Homo sapiens: one gene and its partner. The protein of the gene in region 1 purifies or fractionates together with the protein of each later gene. This does not show direct contact. Each region holds a gene or a part of one and is shown in the gene's direction. Other genes may lie near its edges.

What was found. Proteins that work in one complex are often made in the same cells at the same time.
Region 2: the proteins of SLC22A23 (region 1) and PAXBP1 purify together in Homo sapiens (affinity purification with mass spectrometry; 2 studies listed by BioGRID and IntAct, with this or other methods). This does not show direct contact.

Annotation. Positions count from the first base shown.
Region 1 is NC_000006.12:3,271,560-3,279,674, reverse strand, and holds part of SLC22A23 (solute carrier family 22 member 23), read left to right. Parts: intron 1-6,262; coding exon 6,263-6,620; 3' UTR 6,621-8,115.
Region 2 is NC_000021.9:32,754,756-32,761,999, reverse strand, and holds part of PAXBP1 (PAX3- and PAX7-binding protein 1), read left to right. Parts: intron 1-837; coding exon 838-941; intron 942-2,005; coding exon 2,006-2,223; intron 2,224-2,730; coding exon 2,731-2,920; intron 2,921-3,311; exon of another isoform or gene 3,312-6,646; coding exon 6,647-6,770; exon of another isoform or gene 6,771-7,244. UniProt on the Homo sapiens protein: Adapter protein linking the transcription factors PAX3 and PAX7 to the histone methylation machinery and involved in myogenesis.

The DNA of each region.
Region 1 (8,115 bases):
AAGGAACCCAACACCTTAAAACCAAGGATGTAACAATCTCTTTCTCTGAGATTTCAAGAGAGAAAAAAAAACAAAGCCAAAAATGGCATACCAACTTCTGCCAAAATTTTTCCTAATCGTACTGAATGATGTCAAGGATTTTTTTTTTTTTTTTTTTTTTTTTTTGAGACGGAGCCTTGCTCTGTTGCCAGGCTGGAGTGCAGTCGCGTGATCTCGGCTCACTGCAACCTCCAACTCCCTGGTTCAAGTGATTCTCCTGCCTCAGCCTCCCAAGCAGCTGGGATTACGTGCACGCGCCACCACACCCAACTAATTTTTGTATTTTTAGTAGAGACGGGGTTTCACCATGTTGGCCACAGTGGTCTCGATCTCCTGACCTCGTGATCTGCCCATCTCGGCCTCCCAAATTGCTGGGATTACAGGCACATGAGCCACCATGCCCGGCCATATCAAGGAATCTTTGATAGAAAACCAGAGAATTGCTCCCACAGAAAAAAATAAAAAGATATATTCCATATTATATATGCATGTGTACATTTGTTGCATATTATGTATATACATATACATAGACATTTTTCTAATGATCTGCAAATTAAATATATTTCATTTTATTTGGCACAGTTAACAAGATAGATCAGTATGATGTGGTTCACCAGGCACAATGCAAGGCTTTTGTTCCATGCAGTTTGCCCTTTAACAGTGGCCCTCTGCCCACCCCTCCTGGGGGTCTGTACTCTGCCCTCCTGTATGTGACTCCCGTGTGAGTAAGGGGAGTCCTCTCACTGCTTGTCAGTGCCGTCCACATTTAGTGCCGGGAAGGTCAGGCAGAAACCTGGGAGGTTTCCGAGAAAATGCTGTCCCCATTAAAATCATGTCCATTATCCCTAGCATCTGATATGCCCTGTGGCTTCCTGAAAGAGCCAGGTCTACCAGAAAGACTTAATTGGCTATTTTAGGTGTTCAGTCTTCATCTTACAGAAGGATTTGGTCTTATTGCTCATTTCCGTGGTTGTCTCTATTTAACCTGTCCCATTCACCTGGGTGAGCTGACCTTCCTATCCAGGAAGCCCGTGTGATCCGCAAGCATCCGGTATTTATTAAGCACAAACAGCACGTGCCTGTTGATGTCCTAGAAAATAATTCTTGCCCTTGAAGGGCTCAGAGACTAGTAAGGTGACAGGCACATGAACAAATAGTGACAGAAAGATGCAGAGTGTCTTTGAACGGTGGTCTGGGACCCTCAGCCTGGGAGGAGTTTGAGTATCTGGGAGACATCCCCCAAATTCTTGCTCTTCCTCATCCATATCGTCTTCAGGCCCAGAAGCACAGTGGTGTGGCTATTCCTGCAACTCTTTCAGCCTCTCCCTGGGAAGGGCTTTCTAATATGAAGTGCTGATGCCTGTCACAGCCTGCATGAGAGGTGGCTGTCAGTCTCCCTCCGTGGCTAAGGCAGGGGAATCTGTCACTCACCGAGTATCTTGGTTTTCTATTGCTGCATAACCAATCGCTCCAAAACAGGGGCCTGAAGTAGCATGCATCTACTATCTTATGGTTTCCATGGCTCCAGAGTCTGGGCACGGCCTGGCTGGGTCCTCTGCTCCAGGTCTCTCAGAGGCTACCATCAGTGGGTAGGGCCCACCACTAAACCAAGTCAGGCACTGGTAGGCTGTTTCCTCACGGGCTGTGGGGCTGGCAGCCTCAGCTCCTTGCTGGCCGTTGGCCATAGGGACCACAGTCACAAGGCAGCTCGCTTCGTCAAAGCTAGCAAGAGTCTGCTAGAATCTGCCTTTTGGAACCTTGTTGTGGAAGGAACATCTCACTATCCTGGCCGTAAATTTGATTGCTAAAAAGTACGTTATTTGTACCTTGTACCTTGAGGGCCAGCGCACACTCAAGGCACAAGGGTGGGAATTACTGGGGCCAGTCTAGAAATCCGACTATAGCACTGAGTAGATGCCCAGGTGCCAGCCAGGTCTCAGTGGCTGGGCAGGTGCTGGGGACAGCACACGGAGTGGAGCCTGGTCCTGCCCTGGAAACATCTGGTGTCTATTAGAGACACACAGACACGCAATGCGAATGTGTCTTCGGGCTACACAAGTGTCCTGAGGATGCAGGGGAAGTGCCCAAGAGAGCCTGCTCAGTCTGGACTCAGAAGGGTGGCTGGGACGGGATTCCCAGGATGTGGCCTGGAGCCCGCACATAGTGGCTCTAGAGGCGATGCGTGTTTGGCAAGTGCACTGCGGCGGGAGGAGGTGAGGCTGGATTCCTAGGGCTCGGGGAGCAGGAGCAGAGGTTCCTGGAAGGGTGAGGGTGGGCGGGTGTGAAGCAGCTTGAGGAGGCAGTGTTTGCAGAGCTTGGTGCCTCACCGAGAGGAAGGCCAGGGTGGAGGAGAAGGGTCCCAGTGGCACAGCCCCCTCTGCCAACTTTTAGGACTCCATGTCATGCCTGGAGGCTTTAGGCCCATGGGAGAGGCTCATCCTGTTCGCCTCCCAGTTCTTGAACCTCTCCAGCTCTGGTTCCTCCTACACCCAGCTGCCCCCTAGACCCTGAAAGACTTGGGTGGCCCCTTCCCGGCACTCAATGGATGCCACCTGGAACCAATCAAGCCACGGATCTTCCTGTCCCCATGCTAGTCACATTCGTGCTTTAACCTCCACTGCACTTGGACATTGGAGCTTTTCTCATCCCTGTTTTATAGATGCAGACCGAGGCTTCGGGAAGTGAAGCTGGTGGGCGGGGGCCAGGATTCTAGCCCAGGCTCATGGGCTCCAGAACTCCTGCTCCCAGCCACGGCACTCGCACCTTTGTGGCAGCAAAAGTCTGTTCTGTAGCTCACTTTGGGCTGGCTCTTTTTATGTGGGTTTACTCAAGGCTTGGAGGCTAATGGCTGATGCCCCAGTCTTGACAATCATCTAATGGAATAAACATTAACGAAGACCCTGTACCAGAAGGCATCTCCTTCCTCGAGAAATGCACAGACGGCGCCCTACCCAGGTAGCCTGTGGGAGCTCGGCTGAGCCAGCATAGGCCAACCTCACAGAGCGAGCACCAGACAGAGCTGAGGGACCCCGGTGCCATGAGTATTGGGACTGAAAGGCAGAGGACAGGAGGAAGAGGTGGGGCCCCCAGGACCTGTGCATCACCTTGCAGGCAGGAGGGAGCCATTGGAGGACTCTGAGCAGCCAGGTGATATGATTAGCTCTGTGTTCTAGGAAAATCGGTTTGGCAATGGTGAGGAAACAAAGTCTAGGGGGTGCAGAAGATGCGCCAGGGAGGAGCGCAGACCCAGGCGGCCTGGAGTGGAGGCCCTGAGGACTTGGTCATGGGCTGGACAGGAAGGAGCTGGGAAAGGGAAGAATCCAGCGAGTCTTTGTCCCCTAGGGCTGCAAGCCTGGCAAGGCTGCCCTTGTGCCCCCAAGCCCTGTGCCCATGGTGGATGCAGATGGGTGGACTGCAACCAACAGAGAGGCAGTCATTTCTACATTAGAGGGAGAAAAGGCAGAGCAAAGTGTCTTCTCTTATTTTGTTACAGGACAAAAGCCCCCAACACACACACACACACACAATCACCATTCTTCCATTGCATTCTGAGAAAAAGGCTCCAAATCTGTGAATCTTCCTGGGGTTATTAGCATAGACCTGTGTATATCTGGTTTATGAGGGCCACCTGGGAACCCTGGGACTCCCATCCTCCCTGCCCAGGTCACCTTTGCCCAAGCCTCTTTGGGCATGAGCCACTGTGTCTGGCCTGCCCATCTTTTTACTGGATTATCTGTCTTCTTTTTGAGTTATAAGAGTGGCGTGGTGGCTCACGCCTGTAATCCCAACACTTTGGGAGGCCAAGGCGGGTGGATCACGAGGTTAGGAGATCAAGACCACCCTGGCTAACACAGCGAAACCCCGACTCTACTAAAAATACAAAAAATTAGCTGGGCATGGTGGCACGCGCCTATAGTCCCAGCTACTCAGGAGGCTGAGGCAGGAGAATGACATGAACCTGGGAGGCAGAGCTTGCAGTGAGCCGAGATCATGCCACTACACTCCAGCCTGTGCGACAGTGAGACTCTCAAAAAAAAGTTCTTTATATATTCTAGTTACAAGTCCTTTATCTGATATATGCTTCACGAATATTTTCTCCCAGTCTATGGTCTTTTTTTCTTAAACATGTATCTTTTGAAGGGTAGGAGTTTTTAATCCTAATGAAGTCCAATTGATCAGCTTTTTCTTTTATGGATCCTACTTTTGATGTTATGTGTAAGAAATCTTTGCCTAACCCAACGTCATAAAGCTTTTCTCTTGTTTTCTTCTAGAAGCGTTATAGTTTGAGCTAAGTTAAGCACTTAGATTTTATTATCCATTTTGAGTTCATTTTTTTACATGATGTGAAGGGTCCAACATCATTCTTTTGCACATGAATATCCTGTTGTCCCAGCACCACCTGTTGAAAAAACTATCCCTTCCCCCTCACTGGATTTGCCTCCATCTACAGTCAGTTGACCATAAATGTGAAGGTTAGTTTCTGAACTCCCAGTTCTGTTCCATTGATCTATTGATATATACACCAACACCACACTGCCTTAAGCCGTATGGCTTTATAGTTTTGAAACTGGGAAGGCAAGCCTTCTTTGTTCTTTTCCAAAATTGTTTTTGACTACTCTGAGTCTTTTGCATTTCCATATAAATTTTAGAATTGGCTGTTTTCTGAAAAAAAAAAAAAGTCACCTGGAATTTTGATAGGGATTATGTGGAATGTATAGATCAATTTGGGAAAAATTACCATCTTTATAATATTTAGTCTTCTAATTCATGAACATGGAATGTCACTCCATTTATTTTTATCTTTTAATTTTCAGCAATGTTTTATCTTTTTCAGCATACAAGTCTTGCATTCCTTTGTTATTTATTTCTAAACATTTTATTCATTGGATGTTATTGTGAATGGCATTTTCATTTTTGGGTGTTGCTAGCACGTAGACATATAATTGACTTTTGTATGTTGATCTTTTATCTTGTGACCTTGTAGGACAGTCTTTTGGTGAGTTAGGAGCTACCTATAGTGCCAACCAAGAGAACCACAGACTAGTCAAGAGCTGGAGTTATCTACCTGCCTCCTACCTGTTGCAGGGACCTCCCTTTCAGCCCACTCAGCCTCAGCAGTTCAAAGGATACAGCCCTCTTCACTTCAAGGGGGTGCCTAACGAGCAGCCCATTAGAAAGCTTCCCCAAACCAAAGGACCAGTCTACCTGCTGCTGTGGAGCGAGGCACACAACTCCACTCCCTCTTCCTTGAGACAAGGCCACCTCTGCCTACCTCCTTCAATGAGGCCCCAGAACTGGGGACCAGGCAGCCCTCTCTAGCCTGGCCTGACACCTGAGCGCCACGGTCCCACTGCAGCCTGGTACAGCACTGCTTTCTCAGGGGCCACAGAACACCTTTGTCCCAGTAATGTGTTTTTAGGTCAAAGTGGAGAGGTTTGAGGGATAGGGGTTCTGTAAGTTTTGCGTATCTACTAATCCCTGGGACTCTTGGCTGCTCCCGTACAAGGCAGGGAGTGGAAATCAATGGCTTGCCTTCTGGACTTTGGTTATCCTGAGCTCAGAGCTGCAGTGAGTTCCTCTCTGTCAGTGCACAGCTTCATTTGGGGGACCCTTCAGGCACAATCCTCAGAGATGGGACCGTTTCCAATGGTGGTATGTGAGCAATTTCAGGAGACACGTGGGCCATCAACTCACAGTGAGGAAACTACTCTTTTAAAGTATCTTGCAGTCTCTCCAGTTATGACAAAGAGAAAGTCTCTGTTCGTGTTGGTATGTCCTTAGTACCCTCTTTAACCCTTGGTAATCCCCCAGGCCTTCAGGAAATGGCATAATTTCAATCCCTTTTGTTTTTCCTTGTATACTACTTATGGCAAGTAATATCAGCTTCCCATTTACAGTAGTATTATATAAGGCTGCCTTTCAAAATAAAGTTCTCATGGTCCCCAGCCCTGAAAAAACAATAAAAATAGGAAACATTAAAGAAAAAGATAAATTAAGTAAAAGCTTTTGATTTGATGAGGAAAAACAGTCACTGCCGTAGAGTGGCCTTGTACAGACACAGCCAGGGTGCTGGTGACATGGGACGTGTGAGGTCGGGGTATACTGGGCAGTGCCCAGGGCAGCAGGGCCCCTGCAGAGGTGGCTTCCTGGTCCACCCCGAGCTTTCCCGGGATCCAGCCCGCTAGCCCACAGCAGCAATCCCTGTGCTTCCCTCCCCCTGCAGGTGTGGCGGGCTGGGGCTGGTGCTGGCCAGCGCGGGCTTCGGCATGCTGACGGCACCCATCATCGAGCTGCACAACCAGAAAGGCTACTTCCTGCACCACATCATCTTTGCCTGCTGCACGCTCATCTGCATCATCTGCATCCTCCTGCTGCCCGAGAGCAGGGACCAGAACCTGCCTGAGAACATTTCTAACGGGGAGCACTACACGCGCCAGCCGCTGCTGCCGCACAAGAAGGGGGAGCAGCCACTGCTGCTCACCAACGCCGAGCTCAAGGACTACTCGGGCCTCCACGATGCCGCAGCCGCGGGTGACACACTGCCCGAGGGTGCCACGGCCAACGGCATGAAGGCCATGTAGCCCGGCCTGCGGAACCCGGGGCTCCAGGGTCTGGGGCAGCTTGGGCACAGGTTTACAGACCAGGGACCGAACACGCAGCCAGGGGTGGGAAAGCTGCCTCAGCCAAGCTGAGCCTCTCAACTGGTGTGGGGAAATCCTGTCTTTCCAAAAGTCCAAGGAGCGCGGGTCGGAGGAGACAAACTCTTTGGAAATAACCCTTTCAAGACTTTCTTTTCTGCCGTTAAATGTGTGTATTTATTTTGGTCATTTTTACGAGAAGCACTTTATTCCCTCTCCCTCTCACTGATCACAAATGGAATCACCTCCCTGGGCAGCGAGACGCAGTTGCTCTGGGAAGATGCCACAGTGACCAGGGCCATGGCCGGTCCCTCTGGGGAGATGGGACACGGCTCCTGGCAGCACCCAGGAGCCCCCCAGGCTGCCTGCCTGCGTGCAGAGGCAGGAGAGGACCGTGGAGCGTTTCCGGGACTGCATTTTAGACGGAGTGAAATGTACATGAATTTGGCTTTTGCTAGAGTCTGTGTATGGTTTTTTAAGGTCCTTTTTCCCTTTCTGTTTGTAAGGTAAGAGCTTCTGTTCGTGTGCAGGGAAAGCAGCTCACAGACGCCGTTAAAACCAGCTTCATCTTTCCTTCAGGATCATCCTTTTGTACTTGATGCTGGAAGCTCTTGGAGAAAAAGCTTAAACATTTCACCAGAAATCTTAATTGAGCAGCAGTCATATCGCCACAGCTTTGTGAGTACACAGCTAACAGATGCGTCGAGACCTGAGATGTGCTCGTTTTTATTCCTCCTCTCCCAGATTGGCTCCAGCAGAAAAGTCCCTCGTGCACAGGCAGCTCTTGTGCCGGCACTACTTGAAAACATGGCTACTTTCTAAGCTACAAACCATTAGAAAATAACTCAAAAAGATGGCAGAGGCAAATCCACAGAAGGGGGGCTGCCCTCCACACACACACGCCCGTCACCCACACCTTGAGCACACACCATGAAGATCACCAGCTTGGATGGCCGTCACCTCAGACATCACTCCAGGGAGCACCCGCAGGAGCTGGGCCCCCTCACGCCTGCCTTCCTGGGCCAGCTTCCTGCTTGCAGTCACTCGCATAGCACAGAGGTGGGGCTTCGGGCAGGGAGCGGAGATTCCTCATAGGTGAGTCCAAATGACCTCCAGCCTCTCGAAGGCATCAAGACAAATTGAAAGAAAGCAATAACTCACCAAAGCTCAACGCTGCCCCTGCCTCGACCTCCATGGGTCTCTTCGTGTTCCTCGTTTCACCCCAGAAAGTGGAGGTTTCCTCTTGGCATTTTCGGAGGAAACTTGTAGGACACCCAAGGCGACTAAGAGACAGCCTCCTTGGCAAGGGCAGGCACCACTTTGTAGCAACTTGGGCACCAGCTTTTCTGGACAGCCTGGCTTCTTACTGGCATTGTCCAACTCATCCCTTCTCGAAGCATGTCTTTGCCATGGGCTGTGTCCTTCCAGGGAAATTGTG
Region 2 (7,244 bases), on another chromosome or scaffold:
GGTACAATCATAGCTCACTGCAGTGTCTTGACTCGTGGACTCAAACAGTCACCCTTGTCTCAGCCTCTCGAGTAGCTGGGACTACAGGTGTGCGTCACCACACCTGGCTAATTTTTTTATTTTTAATTTTTTTGTAGTTATGGGGTCTCACTGTGTCTGGTGTCTTAACTCTTGGCTTCAAGAGATCCTCCTGCCTTGGCCTCCCGAAGTGCTGGGATTACAGGCATGAGCCACCATGCCTCAGCCTCCCAAAGTGCTGGGATTACAGGCATGGGCCACCATGCCTCAGCCTCCCAAAGTGCTGAGATTACAGGCATGAGCCACCATGCATGGCCTCTAATGCTATTAAATGTGATTTGATATTATAGTCAAGTAAAAAGTATTTAGACTTACTAAATTTTATGTTAGAGGACTATTCTTGGGTACAAGTGTTTTATTGGAATTTTTAAAAACTAATATCATTGTGATAACTCATGTTCATTGAACATTTATTGTGCAGCTGGTATTGTGCTTAGCAGTTTACATGCGTAAATTCATATAGTTCTATATTCCTAGGAGGCATTAGATTTTGTTCCCTTTGTTGATGTCAAGTTTACAGAGATTAAGAAACACATCCAAGATTTTAACTATTACATTAATACTGCCTTTAGCTTCAAGGAATACTGTGTTTAAAACAGGCAAAGTCAGGACTACCAAATGAGAGAGGAGATCATATTAGACATTTTAGTAAGATTGAGTTAATAGTTTTGCTCAGTTCTTGTGAAATGTCAGGACAGCATCTTTTACCTCTTTGCTCTTTGGGTGTTACTTACTTTTCTTTGTTGCTCATGGCTGTAGGAATTGAGGGGAGTGATGATGATGCTTTAGTAACTGGAGAACAGGATGAAGAGCTCAGCCGATGGGAACAGGAGCAGATAAGGAAAGGAATTAATATCCCTCAGGTACGACAAAAGAATTAAACTAAAAATTAAAAGTAGATTAAAAAGCCTTTTTTATTTTGTTAAAGTAAAAAATTCCGTATTGAATCTTTGTCATTCATTTCAAGTAACAAAATCCCATGAGGAGACACACACACACACACACACACACACACACACGCACGCACGCACACAGAGACACGTAGGCTTTTAGAAGAAACTGCAGTGTGTTCGGCTTTTTGCAGTCAGAATGATGGAGGAATTTCCAATTTCTTAGATGAGTTTTTCTCAAAGTGGTCCTTCAGTTAGCATTAGCATTACCCGGTAGCTCATTAGAAACGCAAATTACCAAATTATCAGCCCCCAGAGACCTACAGAGTCAGAAGCTTGGGGTGGTGGGGCCAGCAATCTTTGTTGAACAAGCCCTCCAGGTGATTCTGATGCACACTAAAGTTTGAGAACCATTGCTTTAAATGGAATGTTTTTGTGCGTGTAGCTTATTTTTTTGGACTTTAAGAATTATTTTGAAGAAGATGGATTTCTCAATAATACAAAAAACTTGAGATCGATGAAAAATATCTTCCCAGTTATAACAATTTGTTTTATAAAAGTAAGTAATACAGTGAGAAAAATTGCATAAACGTAAACCTATTTTTGTTAATAGTGTTTTGAGGCAGAATTCGCATACATTTGGGTGAAGTTAAGAAAATGGCACAATAGAGAAAGTCTTGGACTGGATGTCAGGAGTCTTAGATTCTAATCTCTGGTTGCCCATTGATTCTGTGACCATGGGCAAGGCATTTATCCTCTTTCATTGATCAAAGGTGGCCTTAAATGATTTTTGATGTTTCTTCCAACTCTGAACTCTGTTTTTCTGAAAATTATTAGAAATAAATTTAGTGATTCCACCAAGAGATAGGACATTCATTCAATCCTGCTTTTATCTAATTTTGAAGAATTCTGCAATTATTACATAATATTTGGCAAATAGGTATAATTTTTGCTGTTGATTTTTTAACCCTAAAGGCATATTATTATTTTCAAAGTTTTAACTACCAGATTTCATCTATATCCCATTTCTTTTCTAGGTTCAAGCCAGTCAACCCGCAGAAGTGAATATGTACTACCAGAACACTTACCAGACAATGCCTTACGGCTCATCCTATGGCATTCCTTATAGTTATACGGCCTATGGATCATCAGATGCCAAATCTCAAAAAACAGATAATACAGTCCCTTTCAAAACTCCCAGTAATGAGATGACTCCCGTTACTATTGATTTGGTAAAGAAACAGCTTAAAGACAGGTAGGGCAGATCAACTTCTTAAAGACCTGTCCGCTAGCTTTCTGTTCCCTCAGGCAACATGTAGTCTGGGGTAGCAGATGCAGAATATCAGCAAAGAAGATTCACTGGCCCAGCTTCAAAAGCTAAACAGAAGATGACTTCATACTTTGTTCTGCTACCTTCTTGGATTACTTCTGTGGAAGCCTCGAAAAATTATAAAAAATGCCACTCCATGATCTTGTTGAAGACATTTCTGAGTTTGTACCTCTTGGACTCTGAAAAAGTGTAGTCACGCTATGGGGGGAAAAGCAAAACAGTGAGATTTTGGTTAGCCCACAAAACTGTGAAATCTGTAAACTGCCATTTTTTGTTTTTTGAGAAAAAAAGCAGTACAGAGGAAAAGATGCCATTCCAAATATTTTTATGTTCTAATAGTGGAGCTAAATGCATATTTTAATATTGCAAGAGTCCTGACACCATAGACCTTTGGATGTAAATGTGTTATATTTATCCTTTTGTGTTCCTAAGGTTGGACTCCATGAAAGAATTGCACAAAACAAATCGACAGCAGCATGAGAAACATCTGCAAAGCCGAGTGGACTCTACCAGGGCTATTGAAAGATTAGAAGGGTCTTCTGGGGGTATTGGTGAACGGTATAAATTTTTGCAAGAAATGCGAGGGTATGTCCAAGACTTGCTTGAGTGTTTCAGTGAAAAGGTAAGAATGCAAAAATACTAATCTCTTTGAATAAGGCAAAATTAGGGAGGTCTAGATGGCCTTGTGTAGAACATTCTATAATTCTCAGAAAGTACCCACTGAACTCAACATTAGAAGTGATGAAAAGTCATGCTTCATTTTTCTTCACTTCATTAGTGGCATTATCTCTTAAGGGCAATATAATACCTTTGTTGAAAACAGAAATAAAGATAATATCTTAAAGCACATTTAAATAAGACTTTGGAAAGTCTTATTTCAATATGGTGGTAGATTATTATTGGCCTGTGCTGAATTCTTAGAATATAAGGGACTCATCTGATAAAATTTTCTTTTCTGGTTCAGGTTTAAACTTATTTTTAAACGTTTCTACAAGCAATTCTAAATATGCATATAAAGTTGCAAATTTTTATTAGTTTTTTTTTTTTTTTTTTTTTTACCCTGGATGATGATTACCATTGTTGCTAATAGTTTTTATCTAAGTAAGCCTATGCTTGATTTCTTTCAGAAACCATTTCATTGGATATCATTTTTTCTAAGGTTTCATTTCTCCCAAGTTTGTTTTTTTCAATAGGATAGTCAGTTGACAAAATGTTTGGCATTCTTATACTATTTATTGTTTACATTTAAAATTAGGTGCAAACAGCTAGTTTCTCAAATGACCTCCTAATTGATTTTTTTTCTTTAAGATAAAAGTATTGGTTGAGGCACTGGTTTATAAGCATTTGTGGACTTTGCAGCCTTATCTTTAAAAAAAAAAAAATTAAAACTGTGGTCCTTAAATATCCTGTCTGAACTTTGGATTGGAAGGCACATTTCCCTTTGTTATTGGCTATGTAGATTAGCTTAGAATCTGTAAGCATATAGTGTGGTTAAATATGTATTTCAACTTTTGTTATCTTTGTTGATTACTTGAATACCCTAAAACCAATGGCTGGGAAAAGATCATTGCCAGACTATGTCTTCCTGATGGATCTTTCTTCCTGATGGGTCTTAATGGTTCCAGTCAGTCTGTGGCCAGATTCAGGATGAGATAACATTCACCATGTCCTCTCTGTAGGGTTTCTCATGTTTTGTCTTTATCACCTGGTTTCTGGAGAAGCAGCTGCAGTCTGAGTTATGATACCACTTGTGGTGTATCAGTTGCTTAGGGTGGGGAAGAAGTATAGGCTTGTCTGTATTCCTCTGTGCCGGGAGCTGGAGTCAAGATTGGAAGTGGAACCTAAGTGTCAAGAGTTGACAGTCATGTCCTTCCTACTGGCAAAACTCTTCTGAGCCCAGTGGGCATGGTGGGAGCTGGTCTCATAACCTTTGTGACTAGAGAAAGGATCTTTTTCTTAAACTATGCTTTATGAGTTTGTCCCTGGAGAGCTGCTTCTTGAAGTGTCTTGGCGCTTGCTTCGGAACTTTCTTGAGTAAATTAAGACATTCATAATTGCAAACACAACTCTAAAAAATTTGACAGTAATATGATCAGCTAGATCATACCAAAAGTAGGACAACCTAGTTTATAGTTTTTAATTGTTGAATTATTAGTGTATTTCATCTCGATTACCTTGTTCCTAGAGAAGTTTACTTCAGATTATGCTAATGTGGTTATACAGAGTCACTTAGATTTTTTGGAACAAATCTTAAACCTTATACAGTGACTACGTTTTAATTAAAAGAGAGGTAGACATAGCTTCATTTAAAGATGAGTATTATATTTCATTCTAACATTTTCATGTGTATTTCATTTTAAGAGTACTGCTCAGCTTAGATCTTTAGAAGATAATCTTAAAAATAAAGAAAAAACAAAAAAGTACTGCTGAGTTGATAATATAAATTGTTATATTGGAGATACTTAGAAATAATTGGATACTTTGAATAATTATACTATAATAATATTTCAGAGTTAACCGTAAAAAGATAAAGATCCCTTTTTTTTTCCTCTTTGCTTATGAAAGTTTAGGTGGTTTTTAAAGAAGTTTTAAATATTTGTAAATCATTTTAACTTGCCATTGTTTTTGTTTCCCTGTAATTATCTTTCTTGGGTTCTTTGCCTTAACTTTGGCCCTAAAATAGTAATAATTGGTGAGAGTTTTGAGTTTGGAGAGGATAAAGAAATTGTCACGGTGCAGACTCTTGAGATAAATCAATATTGTTAAGAAACTTGAATGAGAGCTCACAGTCTGTTTAGGGCTTTTATTCTCAGTAGAGTTTTTCTCTGGACCTCCGGTAAAAGGCATTCCAGTTAACCTAAAGAGAAAAACTACATTGTCAGAATCTTAACTATATGTTGCAAAATTATATTCTGTATGATGCCAGCTTAGGTGGGTAGTTCCTACAGTACAGGAAGCTTAACAATCTCTAGGATTAAAAGATAAAAGAATGCCTCAGGCTCATTTATCTTTAGTACTTCATGGTTTAAAAAAAAAAATGAGGGCATGGGGAAGTGTAAATGGCAATGTTGTGGCAGTAATTGCTAAAAAAAAATCAGATTATAATAAATTTTAATGATAGAGTCTCTGGACTCAGCTATCAAGGATAATCATTACAGATTTGGGGACATTGTTGCCCATGGTGTGGCATATTAAAGAACAAAATAACTCCATTAGTTTGACCTTTCTGTGAACATTTGCTACTTTTGCAATGGAATCATGCAAGTATATAAAATTGCTTTTATTACAGACATCTCTGTATTCCACCTGCCTTTTTTTATTTTCCATTTGCAGTCTGTTCAGTTCAGGAAGCTGCTATAACACTTGGTGCCAGTGTTCCCAAACTCTAAATAATGTGTTTTCCATTTGCACTAACCATCAGGAAACTAGAATTTCTGGTTTCCTCAGGTATGTGTAGTGGTCATTAGTGTTACGTGAAAGTCTCATAGCATTTGATTATAACATAAGGTATTTAGAAAAAGAAAGTTTTCTGTTTTAAGTTAGCTCTCATGTTCTTTTGTATTCTATATGAATCAAGTAAATGCTTTAGGGATATTAACCTGGAAAAATTATTGACTTTGTAAGTTCACAATTCATGTAAAGAAATTTTTATAAAATATGGGAGAATTTAAACATTTGACAGGAAGAGAACAACTTTTTAAATTTGAGATATATTGAGTTCAGAGAGGTTAGTGATAGCTGGAAATTTTATTCGCCCTAGTAATTATTTTGTTTACATTAAAAAATCTGTAATAAAGCTACAAAATAGTAAACAGATTACTGTAACGTACTTGGTACATATGAGTGGCAGAGCAACTGAAATGTCCAAAATTGGAGAATTAGCAGACTCTTGTTCTTACCTACTTATAGAGCCATTGCACTTTTTTGGTACCACACAGTGATAATGTTTTACTTTGAACTACAAAAATCGCAATGCAGATAATGCTGCTGGAAAATTAAAAATAGATATTAAAAAGACTTCTAAGTACTTAAATATTCTCTAAGGGAAAAGCTCTAAAATTGTTGACATTTCTTTACTTGTTCTATGAATACTGAAGTGTTACATTTCTTAACTAATGTTTGCTCCAATAACTAGGCACTGGACATTATAGCTCTATGCATGGATTAAAAGAAGAAGTGTCGTTTCCCAAACATAAAACAGAATTTGCTACTTGTGTGCTGTTGGGGATTCATGATTATTCTGTCCATAGAGAGGGTACTTTTTCAGAAATCCGGAAATAGTATGGAACCCTCAAATAAATAAGCAGCTGAGGAGTTTGGTGTTACGGAGTGTGTTGTATTTTTACAGGTGCCACTGATTAATGAACTTGAATCAGCAATACATCAGCTGTACAAACAGCGAGCTTCCCGCCTTGTCCAAAGACGACAAGATGATATTAAAGATGAATCTTCGGAGTTTTCAAGCCATTCAAGTCAGTCCATCTTGAAGGTTTTTATTATTCATTAAACAACCTTGTTTACTTAGTGCAGCCTAATTGAAAATTAGAGATCTTGGAGCTTTTTTTTTTTTTTTTAAAGAAACAATTTCCTTGCTGTTGTGTCAGGTAGATCTAAAAATGGTAACAGCATGTACTTGAATTGTGTTTAAGAAAATAGAGCTTCACAAAGGAGCTCAAAAACGTGCTAAGATTCTGTCAGTCTTCTTATTCTTTGGGCATATTTTTTCATTCTCCTTTAGAGTATAGAAAAGACATTATCCGTATTTTATGTTAAAACCATTATCTGTTTGGCCCTAATTGGTTTTTTCCCCCATTTTCATTCAAAACACCAATACAAATAAATGCTTTTGTTGATCACAGTGAAAGAGTTTGAGTTTAGGGACTGGGACATGTTGTGGGTAGGGGGAGGGAAGCTATAACTTAACAAATGACACAACTCCAAGATAG